Linked DNA regions of Homo sapiens: region 1 is linked to region 2. The links come from fine-mapping of genetic effects on gene expression. A gene starts in region 2. The other region holds a variant in brackets. All regions are shown on one strand. Distances are between the middles of the regions.

The links.
Region 1: its variant is fine-mapped to the expression of CDC123 in skeletal muscle (GTEx, PIP 0.95).

Annotation. Positions count from the first base shown.
Region 1 is chr10:12,246,697-12,259,892 of GRCh38, forward strand. CDC123 (cell division cycle 123) reads left to right here. Exons shown (of 13, transcript NM_006023.3): 12 at 2,885-3,022; 13 at 3,615-3,893. The coding sequence ends at 3,641. Among named protein-coding and RNA genes, the nearest start is that of CDC123, 57 kb to the left of the region's middle. The variant A/G (reference allele first, on the strand shown) is at 3,759.
Region 2 is chr10:12,188,445-12,199,743 of GRCh38, forward strand. CDC123 (cell division cycle 123) reads left to right here and starts at 7,744. Exons shown (of 13, transcript NM_006023.3): 1 at 7,744-7,875; 2 at 10,261-10,332. The coding sequence starts at 7,802. NUDT5 (nudix hydrolase 5) reads right to left here and starts at 7,447. Exons shown (of 10, transcript NM_014142.4): 1 at 7,326-7,447. RefSeq lists enhancers at 1,634-2,484, 7,491-7,760.

The sequences.
Region 1 (13,196 bases), 59 kb after region 2:
CTCCCATCATTCCTTCCTTCCTCTCAGCAGATGATTTAACTTGCTGTTTCCCGGAAAAGGGAACCCACTGATGAGAATTCCCTCAGTTGATTTCTCATCACACCTACAAGCTTGTCCGTCCCTTCCTGAGTCTAATCTCCCCCCTCCATACACTTGTGTCCCCCTCTGTCATCTCCCCACTCTGGACACTGTGTCCTCCTCTGTCACCTCCCCCCTCAGTACACTGTGTCTTCCTCTCTCACCTCCCCCTCAGGACACTGTGTCCTCCTCTCTCTCACCTCCCCCTCAGGACACTGTCCTCCTCTCTCACCTCCCACTCTGGACACTGTGTCCTCCTCTCTCACCGCCCACTCCGGACACTGTGTCCTCCTCTCTCTCACCTCCCCCTCAGGACACTGTCCTCCTCTCTCACCTCCCACTCCAGACACTGTGTCCTCCTCTCTCTCACCTCCCCCTCAGGGCACCGTGTCCCCCTCTCTCACCTCCCCCTCAGGACACTGTCCTCCTCTCTCACCTCCCACTCTGGACACTGTGTCCTCCTCTCTCTCACCTCCCCCTCAGGACACTGTCCTCCTCTCTCACCTCCCACTCCGGACACTGTGTCCTCCTCTCTCACCTCCCCCTCAGGACACTGTGTCCTCCTCTCTCACCTCCCCCTAAGGACACTGTCCTCTTCTCGCACCTCCCACTCTGGACACTGTGTCCTCCTCTCTCACCTCCCACTCCGGACACTGTGTCCTCCTCTCTCACCTCCCCCTCAGGACACCGTGTCCCCCTCTCTCACCTCCCCCTCAGGACACTGTGTCCTCCTCTCTTACCTCCCCCTCAGGACACTGTGTCCTCCTCCTCTTTCTCCAGATGCCCTCTGCTCTTTTTGCAATTCTTCCTCTCTATCAACTCTGTCCATCCGGATTTAGTCATGCTCAGATACCTCCCATCCGAAAAAAACAAAACATTGTTCAACCCGGTTTCTTCACCCAGCCACTCTCTCCTTTCCTGCCAGCTTCACAGCCAGACTTTCCTGAAACAACTTTGTAGTGCTGTTTTCTGCCCATAAAAGTAACATGTCCAAGACGGGCGGATCAGGAAGTCAGGGTATCGAGACCATCCTGGCTAACACGGTGAAAACCTGTCTCTACTAAAAATACAAAAAAAAAATTAGCCGGGCGTGGTGGCGGGCGCCTGTAGTCCCAGCTACTTGGGAGGCTGCGGCAGGAGAATGGCATGAATCCGGGAGGCAGAGCTTGCAGTGAGCCGAGATTGTGCCACTGCACTCCAGCCTGGGCGACAGGGCAAGACTGTCTCAAAAAAAAAAAAGTAACGTGCTCATTCTTAAAGAAAATTATAAAATCACTTATGATTTGAGAACCTTGAGAACCAGTGTTTATATTTTGATACATAACGTGCATTTAAACACATGCATAGACCTTTGTAAATAAATGAAATCATACTACATACTCAATTACATGTCCTGAGATTTTCACAGTGTTCTCTTGTGAGCATTTTATATCTTTTAAAAAATAGTTTTGGGCCAGACGTAGTGGCTCACACCTGTAATCCCAGCACTTTGGGAGGCCGAGGCTGGTGGATCACCTGAGGTCAGGAGTTCGAGACCAGCCTGGCCAACATGGTGAAACCCCGTCTCTACTAAAAATACAAAAAATTAGCTGGGCATGGTGGCAGATGCCTGTAATCCCAGCTACTTGGGAGGCTGAGGCAGGAGAATTGCTTGAACCTGGAAGGCGGATGTTGCAGCAGTGAGCCAAGATCACGCCATTGCACTCCAGCCTGGGTGACAGAGCGGGACTCCGTCTCAAAAAAAAAACAGGCCAGGTGCGGTGGCTCACACCTGTAATCCCAGTACTTTGGGAGGCTGAGGCAGGTGGATCACCTGAGGTTGGGAGTTCGAGACCATCCTGATCAACGTGGAGAAACCCCGTCTCTACTAAAAGTAAAAAAATTAGCCAGGCATGGTGGTGCATGCCTGTAATCCCAGCCACTCGGGAGGCTGAGGCAGGAGAATCGCTTGAACCTGGGAGGTGGAGGTTGCGATGAGCTGAGATTGCTCCATTGCATCCAGCCTGGGCAACAAGAGTAAAACTTCGTCTAAAAAAAAAAAATTAGTTTTGGCAGCTGGGCATGGTGGTTCATGCCTGTAATCCCAGCACTTTGGGAGGCCGAGGCAGGCAGATCACCTGAGGTCAGGAGTTTGAGACCAGCCTGGCCAACATAGTGAAATCCCTATCTCTACTAAAAATACAAAAATTAGCCGGACGTGGTGACGCGCGCCTGTAGTCCCAGCTACTTGGGAAGCTGAGGTGGGAGAATCACTTGAACCTGGGAGGCAGAGGTTGCAGTGAGCAACAGAGACCTGGGCAACAGAGATCGTGCCCCTGCACTCCAGTCTGAGAACAGAGCGAGACTTTGCCTCAAAAAAAAAAAAAAAAATAGTTTGGCATGGGTGCAACAGCCCACCTAGCCTATAATCTTAACACTTTGGGAGGCCAAGGCAGGAGGATTGCTTCAGCTCAGGAGTTCAAGACCAGCCTGGGCAACATACTGAGATATTTTCTGTACTAAAATTTAAAAAACTCAGCTGGGCGTGGTGGCGCATGCCTATAGTCCCAGCTACTTGGGAGGCTGAAGTGCGAGGTTCACCTGAGCCCAGGAGGTCGAGGCTGCAGTGAGCCACTGCACTCCAGCTGGAATTACAGACGTGAGCCACCGTGCCCGGCTCATTTTAACTTAAGCATCTTCCTTTCTCCTCATCAAGTACAGAGGAAAACATGGAGTTGAAATTGTTTTGCTAGGTTCTTTTTTAGTTCACAGAATAGGCCTAAAAATAAATGATTGATATTCTTTCTCCTTTTTCTTCTTTGTACAGGATTCCCCAGCTTTCCGTTGCACAAACAGTGAAGTGACAGTCCAGCCCAGCCCCTATTTGAGTTACCGGCTACCCAAGGACTTTGTAGACCTCTCTACTGGGGAGGACGCTCACAAGCTAATAGACTTCCTTAAGCTGGTAAAGTCTATGTGCATTTAGTATGCTGGCCATCTTTTCAAATAGACCTTCAAATTGGCTTTTATATAATATTTCATTGGAATCCTGTATCACCTAGACTTTGATGGTTATGAATGGAACCAAGTTACTGAGTTAGAGCATTTTCTAATTAAATATGAAATAGGAGCTGAAGGCATAATTTATTGATTAGAATGACAGAAAATGTTTTTATGCTGTACATGCCTTTTGAACATTTTTCAAAATACTTGTAACTTTGAAGAAAGTGTGTATATTGTTAGAAGGCTGTAAGGAGAGCAGGTCTCTGCTCTGGTGGTGATTTTACTCAAGAGGGGATGTGAATATTTATATTTTTGTGTGGATTTCTGTGTAGGAGTTTTTGTATGTATGGAAGAAAGAGAAGAAAATACTCAAATACCTGAGGATAATTTGCTCAGGAGTCAAAGTGATAAACTAGTTTAATGAATTAAAGCATGGTTTTCCATGACAATTTTTAATTACATCCTTTGCCAAGACCTCTAGAAAATTACACCTGCTGAGCAGATATCCCAAGGAGCATGTGCTATTTTAACATCCCCTTGGTTTTCTTTGACAGAAGAGAAATCAGCAGGAGGACGACTGATGAGCGTACTGGAACTGGAGAAGAGGAGGCCCCGCCCCACCGCTCCGGGAGCTGCTCATCAGCCGCAACTTCCTGCCGACCCTGATGCGGGTGGGCCGAGCAGTGTGGACATCAGCC[A/G]CTTTTTATATTCATGTACATTCACCTGGGGAAAAAAACGGAGGGACTTTGCTACTTGTAAAAATAACATAATAAATAGATCTTAAACATAGGAAAACCATACTGTTCTGATAATAAAATGCTTTCTATGAAATACGTTGCTTTTCTACCGAGTCATTATTTTATTTATTTATTTTAATTTTAATTTTTTGAGACAGTCTCGCTGTGTCGCCCATGCTGGAGTGCACTGGTGCGATCTCGGCTCACTGCAACCTCCACCTCCTGGTTCAAGCGATTCTCCTGCCTCAGGCTCCCAAGTAGCTGGGATTACAGGTGCATGCCACCACACCCAGCTGAGTTTTATATTTTTAGTAGAGGTAGGGTCTCACCGTGTTGGCCAGGCTGGTCTGGAACTCCTGATCCTCAAGTGATTTGCCCACCTTGGCCTCCCAAAGTGCTGGGATTATAGGTGTGAGCCACCACGCCCGCCCTGTTTTGTTTAGGGACAGTCTTGTTCTGTTGCCCAGTCTGGGGTGCAGTGGCACAATCACAGCTCACTGCAGCCTCAATCTCCTGGACTCAGGCAGTCCTGCCTCAGCCTCCTGAGTAACTGGGACTACAGGTGCACACCACCACGCCCAGCTGATTTTTGTATTTTTTTGTAGAGATGGGGTTTTGCCATGTGGCGTTTTTAAAAGGCCACCATTTTTAAGTGATGATATCAATTGTGCCTAATTTACCGAGGCTTTATGATGTGCCAGACATTCTACTAAGAGCTCTTTCTGTATTAGTTGACATCACCAAGCAATTTGAAGGATACAGACATCACAATTTCCCAGGGTACCTGCCCGACGTGGTATCCGGTGGTAATCTTCGTCCTCAGTACTTGATCTTTGTATTCAGTACATCAGATGCCCTTTTTTTCTTTTTTTTAAGTAGTAGAGATGGGGTTTCCCTGTGTTGCCCATACTGATCTCAAACTCCTGGCCTTAAGCAATCCTCCTGCGTCAGCCTTCCAAACTGCTAGGATTACAGGTGTGAGCCACTGTGTCTGGCCTCAATTGCCATTTGTGGGGCCAGTTGTTTTTTTGTTTGTTTTTGAGATGGAGTTTTGTTCTTGTTGCCGAGGCTGGAGTGCAATAGTGCCATCTTGGCTCACCGCTACCTCTGTCTCCTGGGTTCAAGCGATTCTCCTGCCTCAGCCTCCTGAGTAGCTGGGATTACAGGCATGTGGCACCATGCCCAGCTAATTTTTTATTTTAAGTAGAGATGAGGTTTCTCCATGTTGATGGGGCTTGTCTTGAACTGCTCACCTCAGGTTATCTGCTTGCCTCGACCTCCCAAAGTGCTGGGATTACAGGTGTGAGCCGCCGCCCCTGGCCTCAACTGTTTAATGTACAGGTACTTCAGAAATACTTTTGTTTTTTTAAACTGCTTACAGGTGCCTATCCACCTATGATGGATTTAGTATCAAGGGTTGATTTTAAGTTTAGCTCTGGAAGCTGGCTTTGTCAAGATGGCATTTTACCAAGCCAAAAAAAAAGTAAATATATTTGATACCAATTGAAAACATTCAGACTAGGCTGGATGTGGTGGCTCATGCCTGTAATCCCAGCACTTTGGGAGCCCGAGACCGGCAGATCATCTAAGATCAGGAATTCAAGACCAGTCTGACCAATATGGTGAAATGCCATCTCTACTAAAAATGCAAAAATTAGCTGGGTGTGGTGGTGGGCGCCTGTAGTCCCAGCTACTTGGGAGGCTGAGGCAGAAGAATGACTTGAACCTGGGAGGCGGAGGTTGCAGTGAGCTGAGATTGCACCACTGCACTCCAGCCTGGGTGACGGAGCGAGCCTCCATCCCCCACAAAAAAGAAAACTATATTCAGACTATATAAAATAAAAAGACCCAAGCAAAATTTGGCAGAGAGTTCATAAACTGTACAATTCTCATTACACTTTTGCGCACATTTTCCTGGGGAAACTGGACTTCAACTCCCAGGTCACTTTCTAAAATGTGATTTTTGTGCATTGTTTACTTAGTGTATTTAATTTTAGTTGATTTTCCTGATGTTAATATCAGGAAATATAGGATACTATGCAGGAAATATTCTCCTAAAGCCCAGTATAATTTATGCCTGCCTAAAAATTACTTCTGTTTTAAGACAGAGTCTCACTCTATCTCCCAGGCTGGAATACAGTGGCACGATCTGAGCTCACTGCAACCTCTGCCTCTTGGGTTCAAGCAATTCTCCTGCCTCAGCCTCCTGAGTAGCTGAGATTACAGGTATGCATCACCACATCCAGCTAATTTTTGTGTTTTTAGTAGAGATGGGGTTTCACTATGTTAGTCAGGCTGATCTCAAACTCCTGGCCTCAAGAGATCCGCCCGCCTCGGCCTCCCAAAGTGCTGGGATTACAGGCGTGAGCCACCGCGCCCAGCTCTTAAGTTTTGAATCGTCCTTTTATTTTACTGGCATTTGTTCTTTCTTTGAGGTACCTCAGGCTTGTGCTTGAATTCAGAAAATGGAAACCTGTGTGCTTCCTCAGCGTGTCCCTGCAGTCCTTCCTTCTGAAGAGAAGACGCTGCTGCAGTTGCCTTTGAAGGGTTGGGGTAAATATGTGCTTTGTCCTGCAGGTGGTGTCATGTCGCATGGGCCTCCTGGAGACAGCACGCTTTGCCAGTTTTGTTTTCAAGAGTCTCATTTGATTTGCATTTTCTGAGTTCGTAAGGTTTTCTCATCTCAACCATTTCTCTTTTTGATGATTGAGGATCGTTAAAAAACAAGCAGAAACCTTATGTGACAGTTTTTTTGACTAAGTTTGTTACCTGCAAAGGGTAAGAAGAGTTTTCTGGAGTCCGTTAAGTGAGATAACTCATAAACCTGTAGCGTAGTGCACTGCACGTCACAGACCACAGACAAATGGTAGCTATTGTCAATCATTCTGCTTGGCAGACTTCTGTACAGTATATGAAAGGCACGTTCTTTTTAACAGAGTCAAGAAAAAAATATATATATATATTTAGTAGAGACGGGGTTTCGCCATGTTGACCATGGCTGGTCTCAAACTCCTGACTTCAGGTGATCCATCCACCTCAGCCTCCCAAAGTGCTGGGATTGCAGGTGTGAGCCACCACGCCCAGTCCCTTCTTTTCTTTTTTGACAGATGACGAAACTGCTCCCCAAAGATGTTGACTTTCCCAAAACCTTCCCTGTAGCAGGATCTAAACATTGTTTTATTCACATGTTGTCCTTGGCTCATGCTAAGGAAAGAATAAATCACGGTAAACTTACCACTCACACACAGTGCAGGTATGTATACACCTTAGAAAGATACAGCTGAGCACGGTGGCTCACGCCTGTAATCCCAGCACTTTGGGAGGCCGAGGCGGGCAGATCACAAGGTCAGGAGATCGAGACCATCCTGGCCAACATGGTGAAACCCTGTCTCTACTAAAATACAAAAAATTAGCCGGGCACGGTGGTGCATTCCTGTAGTCCCAGCTACTCGGGAGGCTGAGGCAGGCGAATTGCTTGAACCCGGGAGGCAGAGGTTGTAGTGAGCTGAGATCACGCCACTGCACTCCAGCCTGGCAGCGGAGTGAGATTCTGTCTCCAAAAAAGAAAAAAAAAGAAAGATGCTTGAGGACTAGGCCGTGCATGGTGGCTCATGCCTGTAATCCCAGCACTTTCGGAGGCCGTGTTAGGTAGATTGCTTGAGGTTAGGAGTTCAAGACCAGCCTGGCCGACATGGTGAAACCCCGTCTCTACCAAAACTACAAAAAATTAGCCAGGTGTGGTGGTGCGCACCTGTAATCCCCACGATTTGGGAGGCTGAGGCAGGAGAATCACTTGAACCTGGGAGGCAGAGGTTGCAGTGAGCCAAGATTGTGCCACTGCACTTCAGCCTGAAACAGCAAGATTCCATCTCAAAAACAAACAAACAAAAAGATTGAGGAACAGAAATCTAAGACATCGTAACAAAAATGTAGTGAAGAAATAGCTAAAAGTTATACGGTTAGGCAAAAAGTCTGGCATGAATGACCTAAAGAGAGAATGCATTCAGGTGCGTCTTTTTTTTTTTTTTAATCAAAGAAAACCAAAATAAAATGATACTGGCAACATAGTAAGACCCTGTCTCTAAAAAAAGTTGTTTTTTTTTTTTAAAGACAAATTAGCCAGACATGCTGGTGCATGCCTGTAGTCCTAACGACATAGGAGGCTGAGGCAGGAGGATCGCTTGAGCCCAGGAGTTCAAGGCTGCAGTGAGCTATGATCTCACCACTGCACCGCCTCCCCTCCCCGCGCAAAAAAAAAAAATAGATAAAAAGGAAAGAAAGGAAGAGTCCTGGCGCGGTGGTTCACACCTATAATCCCAGCACTTTTGGAGGCCAAGGTGGGTGGATCACCTGAGGTCAGGAGTTTGAGACTAGCCTGGCCAACATGGTGAAACTCTGCCTCTACTAAAAACACAAAAAAATTAGCCAGGCATTTTGGCACGTGCCTGTAATCCCAGCTACTCAGGTGGCTGAGGCAGGAGAATTGCTTGAATTTGGGGGGTGGAGGTTGCAGTGAGCCGAGATTGTGCCACTGCACTCCAGCCTGGGCAACAGGCACAGAGCCAGGCTGAAGCCCTAGTGTTCTCCAAACTGTCACCCCAGACTCACAATATGTACTAGATAAATTGCAGGTCGTCTTCTTTTCTTCCTTCCAACTGAGTTCATTCCCCCACCCTCCCTCTGTTTTCTCCTCCTAAGAAGTCATTTTGTTCAGCCACAGTTTATAAGCAGGGCCCACTGTTTAGGTCTGAGGAACAGGACAGGGTTGTACTAAGCACTTAGGCAATGATTCTTATCTGGGAAGGGCTGACAGCTTATTCTTTAATGTCTACAAATTGCTTTGAAGACAAAAAATGCTACAAAAATGTCAAGTAATGTTATTGCTTTTAGGAACATTTGTTTTCCACCTTGTGAAAGGCATATATCTCAGGTCAATGAAAGCTCAAGCTTCCAAAGCCAGACTGAGTTTCTCTCACTTACAAAAGAAGCATAGCCTCCTTTGCATGTATTGGTAATGCTGAGAGCATTGGAGTTCTTAGTTCTTTACAAAAAAAAAAAAAGTCACCAAAGAAAGAGGACACCAGGAGGCCGGGCACGGTGGCTCATGCCTGTAATCCCAGCACTTTGGGAGGCCGAGGCAGGTGGATCATGAGGTCAGGAGATCAAGACCATCCTGGCCAACATGGTGAAACCTCGTCTCTACTAAAAATACAAAAATTAGCTGGGCGTGGTGGCACATGCCTGTAATCCCAGCTACCTGGGACCCTGAGGTAGGAGAATCACTTGAAACAGGGAGTCGGAGGTTGCAGTGAGCCGAGATCGGGCCACTGCACTCCAGCCTGGCGACAGAGTGAAACTCCGTCTAAAAAAAGAAAGAGGACACCAGGAGCTGGACGCAGTGGCTCAAGCCTGTAATCCCAGCACTTTGGGAGGCCGAGGCGGGAGGATCAATTGAGGTCAGGAGTTCGAGACCAGCCTGACCAACATGGCGAAACCCCCGTCTCTACTAAAAATACAAAAATTAGCCAGGCGTGGTACTGGGCACCTGTAATCCCAATTACTCGGGAGGCTGACGCGGGAGAATCATTTGAACTCAGGAGGCACAGGTTGCAGTGAGCCGAGATCATGCCATTTCACTCCAGCCTGGGCAACAGAGCGAGACTCTGTCTCAAAAAAAAAAAAAAAAAAAAAAGCGCCAGGTAGGGACATAGGAAAGAAGGAATGGAGAGGAAGGAATACTCTCAAATACTTTTTTTTTTTTGGAGACTGGGTCATGCTCTATTGCCCAGGCTGGAGTTCAGTGGCATGATGATAGCTCACTGCAGCCTCCAATGGCTGCCCTCAAGCGATCTTCCCAACTCAGCCTCAGATGTAGCTGGGACTATAGGCACACACCACCATGCCTGGCTGATTTTACTTTCATTTTTTTTGTTACCCAGGATGGTTTGGAACCCCTAGACTCAAGTGAACCTCCCGTCTCAGCCTCCCAAAGTGCTGGGATTACAGGCATGAGCCACGATGCCTGGCCACTCTCAGGTCCTCATGGGGAAATAAATGGAGTATAAATGGATACAGCATTGTAAACAGACAATTTAAAAGACAGTCCGTGCAGAAAGGTCACTGGTACCTCTCAATGAGTTTATAGGTATGAGGAGTGAAAAGGACATCATATGGCCACCTCTCATCACCCTTGGTGGCCACAGACTTGTCTTTTTTGAAATCAAAATGAGAATGTCCAAATCAATCTTTTTTTCTGGCCAGCAGGGGGGAAGGGGGGATGGAGTCTTGCTCTCGTAGCCCAGGCTGGGGTGAAATGGCACAATCTTGGCTCACTGCAATCTCCGCCTCCCAGGTTCAAGCAAGTCTCCCATCTCAGCCTCCCTGGTAGCTGAGATTACAGGCACCCGCCACCACGCCCGGCTAATTTTCGTATTTTTAGTAGAAACGGGGTTTCGCCTCCCAAAGTGCTGAGATTATAGGCATAAACCACCGCGCTAGGCCCGAATGAGTCTTAAGAAAGGAGAGACAAAGATCCCAGGGTATGATTTGCTCACTTCTGGATTTTGAATGCAAAATAATGCTCCCCCAAAACTCGAATAATGGGAAGAAGTATGGTCAATCAGTTAAGCAGTTTTGGTTGCAAACAACAGAAACTAACTCTAGTTAATGAAAGCATGTACTGGAAGGATGTGAGGTGCCTCAGGAAATTGGCGCAAAGTGTGTAAGCTCCACAGAGAGAACGGAGACTGGGAAAACTTTGGAGACGCAAAAGACACTATCCCAGGACTTAGCTACTAGAGAGATTCTGCCTTCTGTCCTGATGACACTGGGCTCAAGATTCAGTATCCGGCTGGGTGCCATGGCTCACGCTTGTAATTCCAGCACTTTGGGAGGCCAAGGCGGGTGGATCACCTGAGGTCAGGAGTTTGAGACCAGCCTGGCCATCATGGTGAAACCCCATTTCTACTAAAAATACAAAAATTAGCCATGTGTGGCAGCGGGTGCCTGTAATCCCAGCTACTCGGAAGGCTGAGGCAGGAGAATTGCTTGAACCTGGGAGGCAGAGGTTGCAGTGAGCCGAGATTGCACCATTGCACTCTAGCCTGGGCAACAAGAGTGGAACTCCATCTCAAAAAAAAAAAAATTAAAATTATTTTTTTGTCTCCCAGGCTAGAGTGCAGTGGCATGATTATGACTCATTGCAGCCTCAATTTCCGAGGCTCAAGCTATCTTCCCACCTCAGCCTCCTGAATAGCTGGGACTACGGGAATACACCACCACGCCTGGCTAATTTATTTTTATTTTTAGCAGAAACAAGGTCTTGCCATGTTGCCCAGGCTGGTCTTGAACTCCTGAGCTCCAGCAGATCCTCCTGCCTCAGCTTCCCAAAGTGCTGGGATTACAAGCATGATCCACAACGCCGGGACCCTTCCCAGTGTTCTCTATGATCCTTTCTGCATCTCCATCCAGTACCCTCAGGACCTCACATCTGTCTGTCTGTAATAACCAACCAGTTGGGCTTGCAAACCTGCTTCTATCTTCCTCCTGCCTTTCTTGTTTGATATAGATTCCATATACCCCATGTAATTTCACTCTGATCTGTGTAAACTTATTTTCCACGACCCTTAAAACATCCTCAGCTCCCAGCAAGTCTGCCTTCTCCATGTTCTTTCAATATCCGCGGCATTCCTGCTTGCTGCCTCCCCTCGAAGCTTCCTGCTCACCTGGAATATGAATGCCCTCCTTAAGCTCATCTGTTCATTTAGGCCAGAGATTCTCAGTCTTAGTCGTATATTCTTTTTCTTTTCTTTTTTTTTTTTTAGACGGAGTCTTGCTCTGTCTCCCAGGCTGGAGTGCAGTAGCGCGATCTTGGCTCACTGCAAGCTCCGCCTCCCAGGTTCACGTCATTCTCCTGCCTCAGCCTCCCAAGTAGCTGGGACTACAGGCGCCCGCCACCACACCCGGCTAATTTTTTGTATTTTTAGTAGAGACGGGGTTTCACTGTGTTAGCCAGGATGGTCTCGATCTCCTGACCTCGTTATCCACCTGCCTTGGCCTCCCAAAGTGCTGGGATTACAGGCTTGAGCCACAGCACCCGGCCATATACTCTTTTTCTTTTTCTTTCTTTTTTTTTTTTTTCCACATAGAAACAGGTATGTGCATTGGGTGGGGTGGGGGGGGGGTCTTGCTATGTTGCCCAGGCTGGTCTCAAACTCCTGACCTAAGGATCCTCCCACCTTGGCCTCTCAAAGTGCTGAGATTACAGGCATGAGCCACTGCACCCGGCCCCTAGTTGTGTATTCTAATTACCTGGAGAGTATTTTTTTCTTAATCAATGGAGAATACTCATCCAGACCAATTAAACTGAAATCTCTGGGGCCCAGTAGTTTGTTCTTGTTTTTGTTTTTGTCTTTTGCTTTTGAGAGGGAGTCTCCCCTCTGTTGCCCAGGCTGGAGCATAGTGGTATGATCTCTGCTCACTGCAACCTCTGCCTCCCGGGTTCAAGTGATTCTCCTGCCTCAGCCTCCTGAGTATCTGGGATTATGGGTGCCTGCCACCACACCCGGCTAATTTTTGTATTTTTAGTAGAGATGGAGTTTCACCATGTTGGCAGTGGTTGGCCAGGCTGGTCTCAAACTCCTGACCTCAGGTGATCTGCCTGCCTCGGCCTCCCAAAGTGCTGGGATTACAGGCATGAGCCACCAGCTGGGCCCAGTAGTTTGTTGTTTATGTTTGTTTGTTTGTTTTGAGACAGAGTTTCACTCTTGTTTCCCAGGCTAGAGTGCAATGGTGCAATCTCGGCTCTTCACAACCTCTGCCTCCCGGGTTCAAGCAATTCTCCTGCCTCAGCCTCCTGAGTAGCTGGGATTACAGACATGTGCCACCATACCCGGCTAAATTTTGTATTTTTCAGTAGAGACGGGGTTTCCCCATGTTGGTCAGACTGGTCTCCAACTCGTGACCTCAGGTGATCCGCCTGCCTTGGCCTCCCAAAGTGCTGGAATTACAGGCGTGAGCCACCGCGTCCAGCCAAGGCCCAGTAGTTTTAAACATCCCCCAAATAATTCTAATGTACTGCTAAGGTTTAGAACCCCTATTTAAATATTAGGCCTTATGTGAGCATCTGTTAACCCCTCCTGCTCCTAAGGCCCTCCCAGATCAATGTAGCCACTATACCTTTGTCCTCCTTCTTTGAGCTTCTAGAGAGCTACAGTCCACATTATCAAACCAGCAGCTCGTTACCTGCTTTATTGTATTAATTGCTAGTTGTCTAGGTGTTTGTTTATATGACAAGCTCCTGAGGCAGGAACAAAATGCTTAGATTAATAAGCTTTTCCAGATAATGAAATATAATACAAAATAGATGGAGACACCCTCAAGAGTATTCCAAGTCACTGC
Region 2 (11,299 bases):
GCCGGGTGCGGTGGCTCACGCCTCACGCCTACAATCCCAGCACTTTGGGAGGCCAGGGCGGGTGGATCACGAGGTCAAGAGATGGAGACCATCCTGGCCAACATGGTGAAACCCTGTCTCTACTAAAAATACAAAAATTAGCTGGACGTGGTGGGGTGCGCCTGTAGCCCCAACTACAGGGAAGGCTGAGGGAGGAGAATGGCTTGAACCCAGGAGATGGAGGTTGCAGTGAGCTGAGATCGTGCCACTGCACTGCAGCCTGGCGACAGAGCAAGACTCCATCTAAAAAAAAAAAAAAAAAAAAAAAAGTGGTGGTGAGAGGGACAAAGACCCTCACTCCCCCGGACCTCATTTTCCAGTGAGGAGAAAGGAAAAACAGTGAGGAAGAACACAAAATTTATGTCAAGTGACTCAGCGTTTCATGAAGAAAGATTAAAAAGGATGAGAAGTGTGGGGAAGATGGGAAGAGTAATCTACACGGAGTGATCAGGCAAGGCCTGTTTAATTTGGTGACTTCTGAATGGAGACCTGAAAGCAATAAGGAAGTAAACCACGTAGAAGTTTAAATATTTAGAGACAGACATTAGCATATTGAAACCTGCAGCCCTACTAAGAAAACAGGCACTTATTCCTTTGAAAGTACCATAGATGATAATTTATTAGGTAAACTTTTTTTTTTGAGATGGAGTTTCGCTCTTGTTGCCCGGCTGGAGTGCAAAGGCATGATCTCGGCTCACTGCAACCTCTGCCTCACGGATTCAAGCGATTCTCCTGCCTCAGCCTCCCGAGTACCTGGGATTACAGGCTCCTACCACTGCACCCGGCTAATTTTTACATTTTTAGTAGAGATGGGGTTTTGCCATGTTGGGCAGGCTGGCCTCGAACTCCTGACCTCAGGTGATCCACCAGCCTCAGCCTCCCAAAGTGCTGGGATTACAGGCGTGAACCACCGTGCCTGGCCGCTAAAAGAGAGTATTTCTTTGGAATGCAATCAGCCTCAAAGGGAAACAGTATCGTGCAGCAATCCACTGATTCCGTGAATGACAAAAATGAGCTATTTCAAGAGCATATTCTTAACTATGAGATTCCCAAACATTTCAGAAGGACTGTAAAAGTACCTCAGAAATTTTTAGAAACAGAAAAGGAATGTTGTTTTTAGCACCATTTCAAAAGCAGAAGCCAAATAGTGCCATTCGGGGGCCAGTCACTGCCAGCAACACGCTGCAGAAAGAACGAGAAATGAGCTTTAAATTCCGTGCTTTGTAAGCCAGCGTCTCCGCCACTGCAACGGAGTTTGCCTTCACTGACTCAACGCTATTTCAAGATTTAAAAGCAAACTTTGATATAAATTTTATCCACTTCATTAGTTAGAATTTAAGGTAATTTGCATATTGCCAATATGTGTATGGTATGAAAAAGATACATGTACACGATGTTGAGTGTTCTACAATTTTTTTTTTTTTTTTTGAGACAGAGTCTTGCCTTGTCGCCCAGGCTGGAGTGCAGTGGCGCGATCTCCGCTCACTGCAAGCTCCGCCTCCTGGGTTCATGCCATTCTCCTGCCTCAGCCTCCCAAGTAGCTGGGATTACAGGTACCTGCCACCATGCCTGATTAATTTTTTGTATTTTTAGGAGAGACGGGGTTTCACCGTGTTAGGATGGTCTCGATCTCCTGACCTCGTGATCCACCCGCCTCGGCCTGCCAAAGTGCTGGAATTACAGGCGTGAGTCACCGCGCCAGCGAGTGTTCTACAATTTCATTTATGATTTTCCTTAGTCTTTAAAGTCACAAGCTGTTTTAATTCTCATAAATCGTTTTAACTCAGTTCAGTTTGAACACTGAAGGTCTAGGATGTGTTGGATGTGTAATTCTCCAGAGCATAAAAAAAACACTAGTGAGGGGAAATGCTGTAAGATTTTTAGACGTCTTGCACAGTGGCAGGCTAACTAGCAGTCTCTAACTAGCTTCGAGAGCACCAGCAGTGGAAACGTCTGTGTATATACTCAGTGCACACTGACCACTATGCTTGCCCTTGAGCACGTTACAGTTTAGCAAGCACATCTGGGGCAAAGACCTGCCTCAGAGACACCACCATACCAGGATGTTTTAAAGGAGGGACACACACATCCCCTTGGGAGGCAGTGAGGAAAATGATAAAGCCTTTTTTTTTTTTTTTTTTTTGAGACTGAATCTCGCTGCAACACCCAGGCTGGAGTGCAATGGCATGATCTCGGCTCACTGCAACCTCCACCTCCCAGGTTGAAGCAATTCTCCTGCCTCAGCCTCCTGAACAGCTGGGATTACAGGCCTGTACCACCACACCCGGCTGATTTTTGCATTTTTAGTAGAGACGGGGTTTCACCATATTGGCCAGGCTGGTTTCGAACTCCTGACCTCAAGTGATCCACCCACCTCGGCCTCCCACAGCACTGGGATTACAGGGGTGAGCCATCACACCCAGCCAAGATTTTTAAAAGATAGTTTGATGTGAAGACATGGTTTAGAGACCAAGAGTGCAGAGAAAGCATTCCAACTAGAAGACACCACATGAACAAAGGCAGAGACACCGGGGCAAGGGTGAGAAATTCTGAGTGTATGGCGAGCTCTGTGGTTCTCAAGCTCCTCCTCCACTTTCTCCTTTAAAAAACAAAGGAAAGGCCGGGCACAGTGGCTCATGCCTATAATCCCAGCACTTGGGGAGGCCGAGGCGGGTGGATCACGAGGTCAGGAGATCGAGACCATCCTGGCTAACATGGTGAAACCCCATCTCTACTAAAAATACAAAAAAATTAGCCAGGCTTGGTGGTGGGCGCTGTAGTCCGGGCTACTCAGGAGGCTGAGGCAGGAGAATGGCATGAACCCGGGAGGTGGAGCTTGCAGTGAGCCAAGATTGCGCCACTGCACTCCAGCCTAGGCGACAGAGCAAGACTCCGTCTCAAAAACAAAAACAAAACAAAACAAAAAAAACCACAAAGGAAAAACCACCACCACAAAACTCCCAAAACAACTCCACATATAATGATGATTTGCGAACACATTTCTAAGGCCATACACAGATTTGGCTGGATCTCTGCCCCCAAAACTGCAGGCCAACAAAGCACACAAAGCTAACTGGCATGGCACAAATTACTGTTGTGATATGAGGTAGTTTTGGGGGCCAGTGCCATGCACTGCATGTGCCTATAGTCCCGGCTACTTGTGGAGGCTGAGGTGGGAGGATCGCTTGAGCTGAGGAATTCATGATGACCCTAGGAAACATAGTGAGATCCTATGTAAAAAATGAAAAAACAAACACCAAAATAAACTAATTTTGGGGTTAGGCAGCAAGTACAGCCCTCTACAGAAAGGGAGGAAGTGATTAATTTTTCACCAACTTCAGTATGCCAGTATTAGTAACAACAGCTGCATAAAGAGTTAAGTGGGAGTTTAGATTCCAGAAGTTAAACTATGAACTCAAAAGCCTGGTTCTGCAGTTGGCACTGAGGCTCATTACTCAATCACCGTACCCGAATCCCGGCCATCTGCTGAGGCTGCAAAGTGAAGCAAAAAATCCTAACAAGAAATTGTATGTTGGCTAGGTCTCTCCTGATAAAAGATGAATATTGTTAATATCAACAATACTCAACCAAATACAAGATGCAGGAGCCCACATCATAAGTAGAGCCTCTGACTGACAAAAGAGGGTCAGGCACTTGGAACAGTTTAATAATTGAATAGGGAAATCAACAAGGCACTTTGAAAGAAATTAAGTGGGGAGCTGAGGCAGGAGAATCGCTTGAACGAGGGAGGTGGAGGTTGCAGTGAGCCGAGATCATGCCACTACACTCCAGCATGGTGACAGAGTGAGACTCTGTCTCCAAAAAAAAAAAGAAAAGAAAAGAAAAGAAATTAAGTGGGAGAGAGGATCAATTTTTTTTGCAGTAATAACTTACTTTATGATTGTCTTGTTAAAGTCAGGCATCAAATTGGGCATGTCTAAAGTGGCAATCTACATTCTGGCAGAATAATTACAAAGAAAAGTCACTTGATTTAGAAGGAACAAAGAATCAAATAATTTGCAGTTATATTTAATAATTTTGGTCATAGTTAAAAATTTTTAAATTCTATTTTTAAAAGATAATATTCTGGCCGGGCTCGGTGGCTCATGCCTGTAATCCCAGCGCTTTCGGAGGCCAAGGCAGGTGGATCACTTGAGGTCAGGAGTTCGAGCCTAACCAACATAGTGAAACCCCCATCTCTGCTAAAAATACAAAAAATTAGCTGGGTGAGGTGGCACACGCCAGTAGTCCCAGCTACTTGGGAGACTGAGGCACGAGAAAAGCCTGAACCTAGGAGGCAGCAGTTGCAGTGAGCCAAGATTGCACCACTGCATTCCAGCCTGGGCGACAGAGCGAGACTCTGTCTCAAAAGAAAAAAAAAGGATAATATTCTGATGTATCCTTCTTTTGTGCCATTTATGGTAAAAAATTTGGGTACCCACAATTGAATTCACTTATGGGTTTTTTTTTCATTCTCTTCAGGTGTGGCAGTTGGGTGGGCAGGGAGTAATTAACGTTTACTGAAATTATGCTACTTGGTGATCTCCAGGAATCATTTAGCAGGTGGTTTAAAATCCTCACATTTAATGCTGGTTGAGCAAGAGTGAACTGACTGTAATGACCCTTGGGAAGGTGAATTGGTTACAGACGTATAGTAACGACACTGTAAAGATAGTCCAGGCAGGAGATGACAGGTCTGGAGTAGAGTGGTAGCCGTGGCAAAGTGACATTTAATTTCCACGAAGACAGTTTTAAGGGAGACTGGGACATCGGAAGAAAAAAGGGGTGATGCAGAGCTCAAATCTGTACACGCTTGTTTGAGGTGATAGCAGACATCCAGATGAAGAAAACCAGCAGACAGGTGAAAATCTTAATCTAGGATGATTAGTCATGCTATGGATTCAGAGAAAGAAATGTGTTTTTTCATTACTTCATTAGGAATTGCACAATAAATCTCCTCCCCCATAATCACATGACTACTGACTTTTCAGCATGCAGGAGAAAAAGCAAATATTTCCACTGTTGAAAGGTTTTATTGGAGAAACTTGATGAATACAATGACTTCATGGCTTAGTGAAGACAACCACGGTGGTTAAAATACAGTGAACCCTCATTTAGCTGTATCCATTCAAAGTATTTGAGCATCTCCTATGTATAATGTCAATTTATTTGATGCTGGTTAAATGTGTAACAAGTTACTTAAAACCAACTGTAATACCAAAAAGTCATTGAACACACTTCTAAAGTATACTGCCTGAATAAAAGGTATCTATAAAAATTCCTTCCCTGTAGTATCTATATATTTAAGCTTACAAACTTAGCTGCTTTTCTACACACAACTGCAATTCTATATTAAAGCTTTGCAACTGCCTTAATCTCTACACTCTTTTTTTTTTTTTTCCCGAGACGGAAAAAAAAGAGTCTCGCTCTGTTGCCAGGCTGGAGTGCAGTGGCGCGATCTCGGCTCATCGCAACCTCCGCCTCCCGGATTCAAGCGATTCTCCTGCCTCAGCCTCCCGAGTAGCTGGGACTACAGGCATGCGCCAACACGCCCGGCTAATTTTTGATATTTTAGTAGGGACGGGGTTTCGCCATGTTGGACAGGCTGGTCAAACTCCTGACCTCAGGTGATGCGCCCGCCTCGGCCTCCCAGAGTGCTGGGATCACAGGCATGAGGCACCGCGCCCGGCCTATGCTCAAATGTTTCTTGGGCTGTTAAAGTACTGCTCCTCGCAGAAGGGCTATGTTCCCGGGATCTATTCTCTTCCGTACATTCATTCCTATCTTCATTAGAAAACATCTGACCTAAATAAATCCCCCATCGATGCTAACATCTCCTTCCGCGCAATTTTTTACTTTCTAAGTCAAATCAAAACAATTATTTGAGCGACTGCTCCTGTCTGCCATTAAGTCTTTCTGGCACCACCCTCCAGACATATATACAATATTGCTTCTTTCCCTCAAATCAGAAAGGACTGCATAGTTCCGGATCAAGGCATAAATGATGAATCATGACTGTCCATCCCCACCAACATACTCTGCAACATTATAATCTATTTACCTCTGCTTTGAAAATGTATTCTTTAAAGCACTGCTTCCAACTAGCCACTTAGCCAGTAACATTTTTGAGAAAAACAAAACACAACCCAAAACAATGTATATATTCCTGGGGGGAAGAGTTTCTAACTCAAAATACGCAGATAATTGTTTATTATTCTAAGGAACACCCTTCTGAAGAGGCCTGCAGTCGGTGGGGCTGTTTCTAATTTAAAACTACTTAGGTGAACCAGGAAGAATGTACATTTAAGGAGATACTTTTAGACGCAGATGCCTCGCGCAAGCCTAAAGCTCGTGTGGTAAGCGACACGACTAGGGGTTAAAAGCGGCTGGTTGGTAGGCCCGGGGCCGTGGCTCACGCCTTGTAAACCCAGCACTTTGGGAGGCTGAGGCGGGCAGATCACCTAAGGTTAGGAGTTCGAGACCAGCCTGGCAAATATGGTGAAACGCCGTCTCTACTAAAAACACAAAAATTAGCCGGCGTAGTGGCGCGCGCGCGCTCTCAGCTACTCGAGAAGCTAAGGCAGGAGAATCACTTAAACCCAGGAGGCGGAGGTTGCAGTGAGCCAAGATTGCGCCACTGCACTCCAATCTGGGCACAGAGTGAGACTCCGTCTCAAATAAATAAATAAAAGCAGCTAGTTACTTCTCATTCTTTTAACGAAACAAACAAAACTGAACTTTGCTGGGTGACAGGAGTGAAGCAAAGGAAAAAACGATAGTACAAGTTCGATTCGAATTCTTCCAGTCTTATGATTCGATCATCGCAGGAATACTGATAAAAATCTGCGTTTTTTCCAGGTTGACAACTTTTGCGAGGCCAGACTAAACGAATTCAGCGCTCCAAGGAGACTCCTCTTTCCTCTGCTTTCTCACATTTACCTCTCGCCTTTTACCTCCCAAAGTCGAACCCTCCAGGATCGTACAGGCGGTATTCCCTCTACCAAGCATTCTACTCCTCTGCAGATGCTGCAATCTTTACACTGGAACTAACACTTAGCTGTGGTGTTCCCCGCTTTCTTTACTCGGAGTAGCCCAGGCTCTTCCTCTCCAATCCACAATTTCCCTCCAATCCCCAGTTTCCCTCTTGGGCGCCTGGACGCGTGCCCAGCCGCAGCCTGGGAGACACCGCGCGGCTGCACGCACCATGCAGATGTGGTCCCTTTCCCCTTCTTCTTCTCCTCCCCAAAGAGGTTTTGTGCTGTGACTGGCTTGCCCCGGTTACTTACTCCAAGGTGTAGGGGTGAAGAACGGAAGAGGACGAAATAACTAGCTGGAGGCAGCAGTGTCAGCCGATGCCGGTGCCACGGCTCGAAACACCGGCGCCTCTCGCGGTGCTAAAAGGATGGGCGCGCACCCTCCTTCCGGCATCCGTAGAACCCCCGCCTTTGACCTAGCTTCAGGAGATTACTTTCCGGGTCAGCGTGCGTTTAGGGCGAAGACGGAGTTGTAAACTTCTTAAAATTCCTCTCTCGACACTTCGGTAATTCCTCTTTCGAGACTAAAGCTCTTTTTGTATGCGTGTGTGTCAAGCGTATGCCCCGGGATTCTCCTCCGCTTCCTTTTCTCGGTCTTCCTTCTTGCTTTAGGGACCGGAAGAGTCCTTGAACCAAAATAGCTCGGCGGGCACTTCCGGGGCCGGCGCCCAGAGTTCCGGGAGGGTGCAGGCAGGAGAGGGAAAGGCAGCAGCGGCGGCAGCTGGAGGATGAAGAAGGAGCATGTGCTTCACTGCCAGTTCTCCGCGTGGTACCCGTTCTTCCGAGGCGTTACCATCAAGAGGTGAGATGGGAGGGGGTTCGCCCGGTCGACCGGCAAAAGGGAACTGCGACTTCTGAGCGAATCTTACTGCTATCCAAAAAAATGCAGGCCTTCTAGCGACTGCATGGGAGGGAGTGTGTCGAGAGGGAAGTACATCAGCAATTGTCTGCGTCCTGTTGCGAGCCAGCGAGTGTGCTGGCTAGGAGGGTCAGTTGTGGTTTTCAGTGAGGGTCGGAGGCGGGAGGAATAGTGGATTAACCTAGTTTAGGCTTGGGAGTTCACCACCACTACTTTTAGAATGGCCCCAGGCGCAAGGTGATCACTGCCTAAGTGCACTCGGAGAATTAATTGCTTTTCGCCATCACCCCAGAGGATGGAGATTGGGAAGGTGAAAGGATACGTAATTACAGTTAGATACGAGAACAAGTTCACAGATATGTCGTACAGCATGGAGGCTATAGTTAATGACGATATACGTATTCTTGAAAAACGGAGAGTGGATGTTAGTGTTCTCACCACAAAAATAACTATGTTAGGCAATGCATTTGTTAGCTAAATTTATTCCACAGTGTATATATACTTAAAAACATCAGGTAGGCGGCAAGTATTAATATATACAATTTCATCTCTCAGTTTTTTTAAAGGCGTTGATAGAAAATCTGGGCTTTGCACTTAACTGATTTTCTGAGCCAACATTTCAGTAATTGCTGATTCATTATATGATGGTTTCATTCAATAAAGATCGGATATGTACTTGAAAATGTGTAACTGGCTTAGAATGGTTAAAATGTATAAGAAAAGTTTCAAGTTCTTAAATAGTATTGGAATGTGTGGTAGAACCTTAGATTCATTGTACTTAACAATTTCGCTTGTTAGCTTTGTAAGAGTAAAATACTTAGGAAGGCTTATTTGTAATCAGCAAATAGACATATTAAGAAAGAAAATTGAGTGGTTTATGAATAGAATTTAAAATTTTAAAGAGACTTTTAAGTTGCAAAGTTTCGCTTGAAATTGTTTAAAATTTAGTAGATTTTCAAACGTAATAAGATTTGTTAGAAGAAATTAAAAGCCTGAAGAACTAGATTTTTTTTTTTTGAGACAGAGTTTTGTTCTGTCGCCCAAGCTGGAGTGCAGTGGCAGCGATCTTGGCTCACTGCAAGCTTCCCTTCCCGAGTTCACGCCATTCTCCTGCCTCAGCTTCCTGAGTAGCTGGGACTACAGGCGCCCGCCACCACCCCCGGCTAATTTTTTGTATTTTTAGTAGAGGCGGGGTTTTCACCGTGTTAGCCAGGATGGTCTCGATTGCCTGACCTCGTGATCCGCCCGCCTCGGCCTCCCAAAGTGCTGGGATTACAGGTGTGAGCCACCGCGCCCGGCCAGAACTAGATTTTTGAATGTGAAATTGTACCTTTGATAAATCAAATATTTATTTTTAAAACCGAAGTTTTTGCTCTGTCGCCCAAGCTGGAGTGCAGTGGCAGTGATCTTTTATTTATTTAAAAATAAATAAAAATACTTATTTTTAAAACCGAAGTAGCCCATGAATACTCTTTTTTGTGCAAAAAAACCATTTGTAATGTGCCAAAAAAAACTTCTTCCATAAATAAATGAGACATGTTATAAGTCATTGATGTTCTGTTAACTTCGGGAAAGCAGGCTGTAATCTTTTCCACTTTTTGAAGATGTATATGCCTCAAAATCAAAATAATACCAGCACTCTTAGGGATCTGTGGTAGGGCTTTTTGATAATTTATTATTTCAAGGTAAAAAACAAATTATCCCATAAGTTTTTAAGAGACTTCAGGTATGGCTTTGCCATCCTTAATTATGATTACCTGAAACAAATTAAGCTAAAGCATGCCTAGTTTAAGCAGCTTTATATCTCTGGTGATCAGTTGAATAGAAAGCCAGCAAGACACATCCAAAAGTATCATGAATTCTTAGCGGTAGGTGCTCACTGCCAACCCAAGAATGGTTTCCAGATCTTGACTCTACTTCTGCCCTCTATCTTTAGAAGGTGACCAAATGCTAGTCATCTTCTAGTTGGGTTTGCTGCATTTCCTGTGTTGCAGCAAATATCTGCTGGTCTCTGATTTCTTAAAGACACATAAATGTTGTGCTCACTCAGAATCCTTTTGAGCTTGTTGCTTTCATACTGTGATTTCCATCTGGTGGTTTGGATTTGGCTGGTTTTTGTTTACTACAAAGACCATTGTGGCAATAAGATGAACCGCAGTAATCTTATTATTCTGATTTCTTGTCTACTGCTACCAAATGTACATCATTAACATTTTCTACTTTATATTAAAAGAAAGACAATTCCAAAATTAATCAAGTGTAGAGATTTTTCTCTCTGCTTATAGTTGGTCTTTTAAAATGATGCCTTTTTTGGTGTTTTTTTTTTAGTGTCATTCTTCCACTTCCTCAGAATGTGAAGGATTATTTACTCGATGATGGAACTCTGGTGGTTTCAGGAAGGTAAAGTATTTTAGAAAAAAATTTCTTAAACTTTATCATAAAGAAACACATAAAATGAATGAATTAGCTTAGGCACCATTCTTTCCCTTTAGCTCTTTTTCTCTCCTAGCCAAAATGATGTGCTGATCTTTGTCTCATATTCCTTCTCAATGTTCACTTAATATTTTCAACATTAAGTACTTTTCCCTCTAATAATTACAAGTTGTGAAATTGAGCAGTTCCTTTCATCTCTGTCTTTAGAAAACAGTTATGATGACAACTTTTCCTTCTGACGGTAGCAGGGTGGGGGAAGTACATATTAAAATTCTTTGAGATCCTTCAGTTTTGACGATTAAAAATTCACTGTTGCAAACAGGCTTTATCATCTAATTCCTCAACATTTTCTTCCCCACGATTGAACTACCGTGGCCCCCCCTCCACTTTCTAGAAGCTGTTCAGGTAGTTTCCCTATTTATAGAATAAAGGGAAGAAGTTACTGTGTTTCAGTCTTTTGGATGCAAACTTGAAAACGTTGAAGAATCATAGGATTTAGTGAAGTTCTCATTTTTTAATTCGAGTCTGCTCAGAAGTCACGTTATGAGTGTTCAGCCCTCACCAGCCTTTCTAAAATAGCCTGACAGTAACCCTATGCCCTGACCTCCCTTCATTTTTCTGCATAACACTTACTTCCACCTGACAATTGTTAATTGTTCCATTAGAATGCAGTTTCATGAAAACAGGGACTTGGCCCATTTGTTCACCCCAGCTCATGGAACAGTGCCTGATATAGCAGAAGTGCTTGATAAACATTTGTTGGATGAAGGAACTATAGAAATACAGTAAGAATTGTGTGTTTTCAGTACTACTAACTGGACCCCATATTTTTGCCTGTTGGGTTTTTAGTGTGGTTTTCTGGATTATATTTCTGTTTTTGGTATTCACAGAGCCTCAATAACCTGAAAATTATTAATGTAGCGCCTCATTAACT